2 linked regions of the Homo sapiens genome follow. The protein of the gene in region 1 purifies or fractionates together with the protein of each later gene. This does not show direct contact. Each region holds a gene or a part of one and is shown on either strand. Other genes may lie near its edges.

Region 1 (3,887 bases):
TAGCCTAAGATAGCAGCCTTGGAAAATTCAAATTAACACAAAAGACATTTTTTGTTTTTCATCTTAATTAATAAAACTGTGGGTATTATATAGAAGATGAGATTTAAGAAGTGATTGGATAGAAATTTCTTAGTAAATTAAAGGATTGTTTTTACCAAATACCAGAAGATATGTGTCATCTTGCAGTCTAGCTGTGTAAACCAAGGCACAGTTGTATTAGTCACTATTTCTGTGTAATAAGTTACTCTAAAACTCACAGACTTAATAACTATGTGCTGTTCCTCATGAGTTCTGTGAGTCAAAAATTTGGACAGGGTATACTGGGGATAGCTTATCTCTGCTTCATAATGTCTGGGGTCTCAGAAAGACTTTGTAGGCCATGGGTGACTCAATAGTTAGGGACTGTAATCACCTGAAGGCTTATCACTTACATATCTGATACCTGGTCTAGGGTGACCGAAGGACTAGAACTGCTAATCTGAGCACCTGTATACATGGCCTTTCCATGTGACTTGATTTCCTGACAGCATGACAGCCTCAAAGTAGACTTCTTACTTGGCAGTTGAGGGTTTCAAAGTGCAAGTGCCCCAGTGAGCAAGACAGAAACTGCATTTCCTTTCCATGACCTAGCCTGAGAAGCCAAATTATATCACTTCCACCATCTTCTATTATTTGGAGAATTGTAAGACCACCCAAATTCAAGGAGAAGAAATATAGACCCCACTTCTCATTGGGAGAGTGGCAAGGTCTCCTTGAGGAAGAGTATGTGGGCTGAAGGGGAGAGGGTACGTATTGTCAAGGCCATCTTTGGAAATTTTTGTCTGCCTCAAAATGAAAGGGAAATTTGAGAACTTAATGTGAATTAATTGTTCTTGAACAATAGTATATTCAGATAAAAATATTTCTGTAAACTAGTAATATTTATTACTAAATTGCTGCTATGTTGATATCCAGCTGATAAGCAATTTTGCTCTGATAAAAAAGACCTCTTAAGTATTATTTGATGCAATGTCTTTTATTTTATTTTTCTTTCACCTTGGCAAAATTTTCCTTGTATGGTGATGATAATGTTTGAAGATCATGATGAATGAGTTCTTAAGTATATATGATGCCTTTAAGTATGACATTGGAGCATCAAAATTTTGTCTCTAAGGAGAGATGTTAGTAAGGCATTATAGTAACTCAGTGTATTCCTTCTAATTTTATTTTTTGGAGGCTTTTTTTGGCTATATATTTTACTTTTGTTTGTTTGTTTTTTAAGGAAGGGGTGTTATTTATTTCAATGGATCGTTAATTCCATTAGGTTTATTGAGTTGTTATTGCTTAAGATAACGTCACATTGATAGGGCACAGTCTTGACAGGGGAGGACACAGGATTTGAGCATACATGGAACATGAGTCAGTTATATCAGGGTGATCTTTCTTAATATGTTTATTTTGATTTAATATAGTCTGCTTGTTTTATCCTATTTTTTTCATAGCAGCAATTCAGATTTCTTATTAAACATTTCTAACTAAAATTTGAGTCAGTATTTTTTTACTGCTTGTGCATTCAATAGTACTGTAACTATACAAGCAATTTTTGTTGGGTTTTTTGTTTTGGTTTTACATTATATGTAAATATAAGTGAAAAGTAAAATGTTTAACATTTTCTCGTTTAAAAGCCATTCCTAGGGAGTAGTGACTGTGTTAATCAAATATCAGGGAAACTTAAACTGGGAAAAGAAGTCCTAGCTACTTTGGAAGGTCATTGGGTAAGTATTTTGTATATGAGCTTTACAAAAAGAATTTTATTCTGTGGGAAAAAAAAAATCACATTTAAAATTTAAAACTTATTCCGTTGCTGAAAACATCACTATTTAACATAAGCTTCATCTTAATAGCAGATATTTTGGTGGTGTTCTGTTATCAACAGTAGTTAATTTTGTGTAATATTTTATTTCCAAAACTTAAAATCAGTAGAAATAGCTAACACTTATATATGACTTACTGCATTATTTAAGAATGTTACTCATATTAACTGATTTAATATTTATAACATATAACGCTATGAGGTGAGTATATAGGTGCCATGCCCATTTTATTATTGTTTATTATTGTCCCCATTTTACAGAAGAGGACACTGAGGCACAGAGAGTTCACATAATTTGCTCAAAGTAGGTAGTGGAACAAGAATTAAAGCCCAGGAACCCTGGCCCCAGGACTGTGCTTTTATGCACAGCACTCTACTCACATAGAAGAAAGAGGCATAGTTCCAATTAGAGTTATATTCCTTTCAGTGGAACATGGAAAGGATATAGTGGTGTGTGAGAGCAATGGCTTTTATTTACTTCTCTGCTAACCTAAATTCATATTTATGTAATTTTGTTAAGAGACGCTTAAATGAATAAAAAGAATCATGGTACTGCATGGATATACCATACTATGAGCACTGAGTATATGCTCCTTTCTGCATGCAGTAAGCAGAAAATGTTGAGAAATATGAGAAAGTGAAGTTAGGGACTTTGTTAAGTGGCCACATACACTCTGAAAATTTTTTTTAATTGCCTTAAATCTGAGAGTCTTCTGGAAAAAAGATAAAGCAGCAGTCATTTTTAAAAAATGAAATTTCTGTCTGGGTGGGGTGGCTCACACCTATAATTCCAGCACTTTGGGAAGCTCAGGAGTTTGAGATCAGCCTGGGTGACATAACAAGACCTCTTCTCTACTAAACATAAAAATAAAAAAATTAGATGGGCATGATGGCACATGCCTGTCCCAGCTACTCAGGAAGCTAAGGCAGGAAGATTGCTTGAGCCTGGGAGGTGGAAGCTGCAGTGAGCCATGATTGTGCTACTGCCCTCCAGCCTGGGTGAGAAAGCAAGACCCTGTCTCAGACAGATAGATAAGATAGAGATGAGAGTGAGAGATGACAGAGAGAGAGAGAAGGAGAAGGATGGTTAAACAGGTAGATAAATTAGATAGGTAAAATAGATTAGATAGATAAGGTAGATAGCACCGCTGCACTCCAGCCTACACAAGAGAGCAAGACCGTCCATGTCTTAGATAGAAAGATTATTCGATAGAGATAGACCTCAAATTTTTAATGCTAGTAAAGGCTCTTTCAGAGGGATGTGTGTGTGTGTATGTTTGAGTATATTGAATCCATGGATAGTCAACAGCATCTCATTGTAGCTGCAACAAATACTATGCTCTACTTGGACAGTTTGGAGATGGTTATTGAGGCTTTGCATGTAATGTTTGAAATTTATTAAGTAAAACTTATGAAATTTCACAAACTGGATATTCAACCAAATTCTTTTTAATTAACTAGTATTACGTAGTCAATCTTAATGTTTTTATAAAAATGATAAGAAACTTGGAGTTTTTGGAAAAGTGCTAGTTATATTTGTTTTAAAAATGCTTTTAACTGGAGGATTAACCAGAAGAAATTATCACCGTCATATTACTATACTATATAATTGCCTTCTAAGTATAATTCTTTACATTAATTTTGAATTTTTTTAAATATAGGATAGTGAAGTTTTTATTACTGATAAAAAGACTGATAATTCAGAGGTTTTCTGGAATCCAACACCTGACATTAAGCAATGGAGATTAATAAGGCACACTGTAAAATTTGAAGAACAGGGAGATTTTGAATCAGAGAAGTAAGTATACTGTTTTACAGCTAACTTCATGAGGATCAGAGAGTAGTTTTTCAATTCCTTAATGATATGGTCATTTTGTCACCTTCTGTCATATCTTAATTCAGCAAAATAGTTTATCATTTGTGGAAGTGACAGTATTCTGTTTTTGTGTATATGAATGTCAAATATAATATAAATCGTCTTGCTTTTCTGTAGCTCAAAACTACTCATTTTTTTCTTTCTCAATTGTTCCAGCAC
Region 2 (3,887 bases), on another chromosome or scaffold:
TGGAAGATGCATGTGGGTCTGTGTAGATGTGGAAGTTGAGGAAGGTAGTACAGATTGCTGAGAAGTTGGGATTTTCTTTTTCATTTTTCTTCTTTTTTTTTTTTTTCTTGAGACAGCGTCTTGCTCTTTTGTCCAGGCTGGAGTGCAGTGGGGTGATCTCAGCTCCCTGCAACCTCCACCTCCCAGGCTCAAGTGATCCTCCCACCTCAGCCTCCCAAGTATCTGGGAATACAGGTGCACACCACACTGCCCAGCTAACTTTTATATTTTTTGTAGAGACAGGGTCTCACTTTGTTGCCCAAACTCATCTCAAATTCCTGAGCTCAAGCAATCCTCCCTTCTCAGCTTCCCAAAATGCTGGGATTACAGGCATGAGCCACTGTGCCCAGCCAGAAGTTGGGATTTCAAGAAGCAAAACTTGCTCATGAAACACAATTTCATCATTTTTAAGCACACTTAGCTGCACAAAATTGTAAACAAGAAAGTCTAGATATTCTCAGGGCCTTAACAAAAGCGTTGAAGAATGGTTTATACTCAGCATACCTATGTGGCTGTAGAAACAAGGGCTGCAAACGCATGTATAAACTTTAGGGTGCTCACAGCCACCCCCAGCCTGGTTAAACTCCCTAGTGATACTGCCTGCTGACATACATGGAATCAATGCACTAGTCACAAAGAATTCTTATCTATTGATGAAAACAGCCAGCCCCAGCCCTGGGTCTGGCTCTCCATCTGAGGGCTAGGATAGGGGCTTCCCAGAAAAACACTGTGGCCAGGAAAGGGGCTCAGAGAAACCCAATACCCCAGATAGCTGCTAAGACATGCCAGTCCTAACTTTAACCCCAGTCCCCTTTGGGTTAAAGTCAGTTACTTCACACCCATTTTCTCCCTTCCTGCAGGGCTGCACCAGGGAAACCGGATCCTGGTTAAAAGTTTGTCCCTTGACCCTGGCCAAAGCCTAGAGCCTCATCCAGAAGGTCCCCAGCGGCTTCGCTCAGACCCAGGTCCCCCGACTGAAACCCCTAGCCAGCGTCCTTCACCACTGAAGCGGGCACCGGGCCCGAAGCCACAGGGTAAGTGGTCCTGGAAAAGAGCAGAGAAGTGGCCCAGGGGAGGGTACAGAGGAGGGGAGAAGTTAGCCAGTGGCAGAGAAGAGGGTTTGTTAGAAGGATAGGGAGCCACCATGCTCCCAGGGCAGTGCTACCTACCTAGTGCACAGAGTGCTGTGGCCTGAGGCTAATGTGTGCATACTGTGATCTCACCTTAGCCCCTTTGTGTCTACCTCAGGCAAAGGTGCAGATTGGTGTTTGTGGAAGGGGTTGTGGCCTGGCCATGACAGCCAGCCACCTCCAAATCCAGCTTTTTTTTTTTTTTTTTTTGAGACAGAATCTCACTCTGTCACCAGGCTGGAGTGCAGTGACATGATCTTGGCTCACTGCAACCTCCGCCTCCTGAGTTCAAGCAATTATCCTGCCTCAGCCTCCCAAGTAGCTGGGACTACAGGCACGTGCCACCATGCCCAGCTAATTTTTGTATTTTTAGTAGAGATGGGGTTTCACCATGTTAGCCAGGCTCAAATCCAGCTCACTGATGTCTCCCTTCTCTCTTCCCCATTCGTCTCTCCAGTGCCCCCAAAGCCCAGCTACCTGCAGATGCCCCGGATGCCCCCCCCACTGGAGCCCATCCCCCCTCCACCATCACGCCCACTGCCTGCCGACCCCCGAGTGGCCAAGGGCCTGGCTCCCAGGGCAGAGGCCAGCCCCAGTTCTGCAGCAGTATCCTCACTGATTGAGAAGTTTGAAAGGTGAGTCTGGTCCCTAGGGCACCCTCTAGGGGAAAGGGGGAGCCTGGGACAGGAAGGGATAGTCAGGAGAGGCCTCTCAGTCAAGCTCATACCCTGCTTCCATGTGTGTCCACCACCCACCTCAGAGAGCCTGTGATTGTCGCCTCGGATAGACCAGTCCCTGGCCCCAGCCCAGGTCCCCCAGAGCCAGTCATGTTGCCACAGCCAACCTCGCAGCCACCAGTGCCCCAGCTCCCCGAGGGTGAGGCCTCCCGCTGCCTGTTTCTGCTGGCTCCTGGGCCCCGGGACGGTGAGAAGGTGCCCAACCGGGACAGCGGCATTGATAGCATCAGCTCGCCATCCAACAGCGAGGAGACCTGCTTCGTCAGTGATGACGGGCCCCCCAGCCACAGCCTCTGCCCTGGGCCCCCTGCCCTGGCTAGTGTGCCTGTTGCCTTGGCCGACCCCCACCGGCCTGGCTCCCAAGAGGTTGACAGTGACCTGGAGGAGGAGGACGACGAGGAGGAGGAGGAAGAGAAGGACAGAGAAATCCCAGTGCCCCTGATGGAGAGACAGGAGTCTGTGGAGGTACTGACCTGTGTTCACCGAGAGGCAGGTCCATGTGGAGAACCTGGAAGCGCCTTTTGTGCTTGATTCTTCCCCTAGCTCAGTATTTCTCGAAATAGGACCTTGTTTCCAAGCTCTGTGACACTGGGCAAGTCTTTTCCCTTTCTGCTTCCCTACCATAAGCCTCAGTTTCCTTATTTGTAATACGGAAAGTCTCTTACTTACATCCATAGAGACTTCTCAACAGCTGGAGGAGGGGCGCAAGAGCTAGAGCCCTGCAGGGGCCCGAGGCTGTGCAGATGAAGGCTCTTGGCAGCAGAGACCCCTTTCTGTGCCCGGGCAGCCTAACATTTCTTCAGAAGGCACCATCGCACTTGAGTTAGATCTCAGCCGGAATACTTGCTCTGCTAGGACCAAGCTCAAGTGTAGGGGCCAAAGCCAGGGACTGCCGGCATGGCAGGTAGTCAACACATATATCTAAGGAATAGGAAACTAGGCCAACAGGCAATGAGTTTTATACGTTCTTATACTTTTGTGCTTTTCTCACACCCCAGGTACTCAGCAAGCCCTTGCTGATAGTGTACTGAGTGGGTGAATAAATGATTAATTAACATTTATATACCATTTAATCTGTAGTCTGATGTGTTTTATTTATATTAAATTATCTAATTGTCTCCATTACCAATGGACTTCAGTCCTATTATTATTTTGTTTTGGTTTTGTTTTTGTTTCTCACCAGCCTCTACATTAAATAGATTCTATTATTATCTGTATTTATGGATGAGGCGTCCTAAATACAGAGCTGTTAAAGAACTTACACAAGCTAGTGAATGGCAGAGCTTAGGATTTGAACCCAGGAAGTCTGACTTACCATCCCACATGCTTAACCACTACACTCTGCTGAGTGAATAGAGAGAGCGGGTGAATGAGTTGTTGAGTGAGGGAGTGCACGTCATCAGAATGGAGGGGTAGGCTTTATGGTAGACTGGGGACTCAGGGATGAAGCTGAAGGACTTACAGATCTAGAGATGGGGGTCAAGGTTATCCTAGGGTGGTATTAGGCTTAGAGTGGCATGGGAACTGTTTTAAGAATTCTGGGGGCTTGGGTGAGGGTTACGATAGAGGATGATGGATCAGGGGTTACTGTTTCTCCTTTCCAGTTGACTGTGCAGCAAAAGGTGTTTCACATTGCCAATGAGCTCCTGCAAACTGAGAAGGCCTACGTTTCCAGGCTCCATCTCCTGGATCAGGTGAGTGGCCCCTTGGGGGTACGAGGGCCCCAGGACCTTGTAGGTGCGTTTCAAGGAGGCAGTGATAGGGCCTGAGTTCAATCCCACCATTGTGGCCAGAATTTAGAGGCAGTAAGGCTCCTCTCTGACCTTGAAGTCAGCTTGTCCCTGAAGCCATCTCTGATTATGCCCCAAGCTTGATCAGTGAGGGCTGATACCAACCCTCACTCCTAACGCTGGGCAGGTACACCAGCCCTGACTGCGACTCTGACACTAGTACTGACTTGGACCCAGATCCTGAATTTATC

Evidence for each region. The genes of interacting proteins can lie anywhere in the genome.
Region 2: the proteins of OSBPL8 (region 1) and FGD1 purify together in Homo sapiens (affinity purification with mass spectrometry; one large-scale study listed by BioGRID and IntAct). This does not show direct contact.

Annotation. Positions count from the first base shown.
Region 1 is NC_000012.12:76,371,211-76,375,097, reverse strand, and holds part of OSBPL8 (oxysterol-binding protein-related protein 8), read left to right. Parts: intron 1-1,664; coding exon 1,665-1,754; intron 1,755-3,513; coding exon 3,514-3,650; intron 3,651-3,887. UniProt on the Homo sapiens protein: Lipid transporter involved in lipid countertransport between the endoplasmic reticulum and the plasma membrane: specifically exchanges phosphatidylserine with phosphatidylinositol 4-phosphate (PI4P), delivering phosphatidylserine to the plasma membrane in exchange for PI4P, which is degraded by the SAC1/SACM1L phosphatase in the endoplasmic reticulum.
Region 2 is NC_000023.11:54,468,500-54,472,386, reverse strand, and holds part of FGD1 (FYVE, RhoGEF and PH domain-containing protein 1), read left to right. Parts: intron 1-899; coding exon 900-1,073; intron 1,074-1,626; coding exon 1,627-1,804; intron 1,805-1,929; coding exon 1,930-2,371; intron 2,372-3,510; coding exon 3,511-3,600; intron 3,601-3,887. UniProt on the Homo sapiens protein: Activates CDC42, a member of the Ras-like family of Rho- and Rac proteins, by exchanging bound GDP for free GTP. Plays a role in regulating the actin cytoskeleton and cell shape.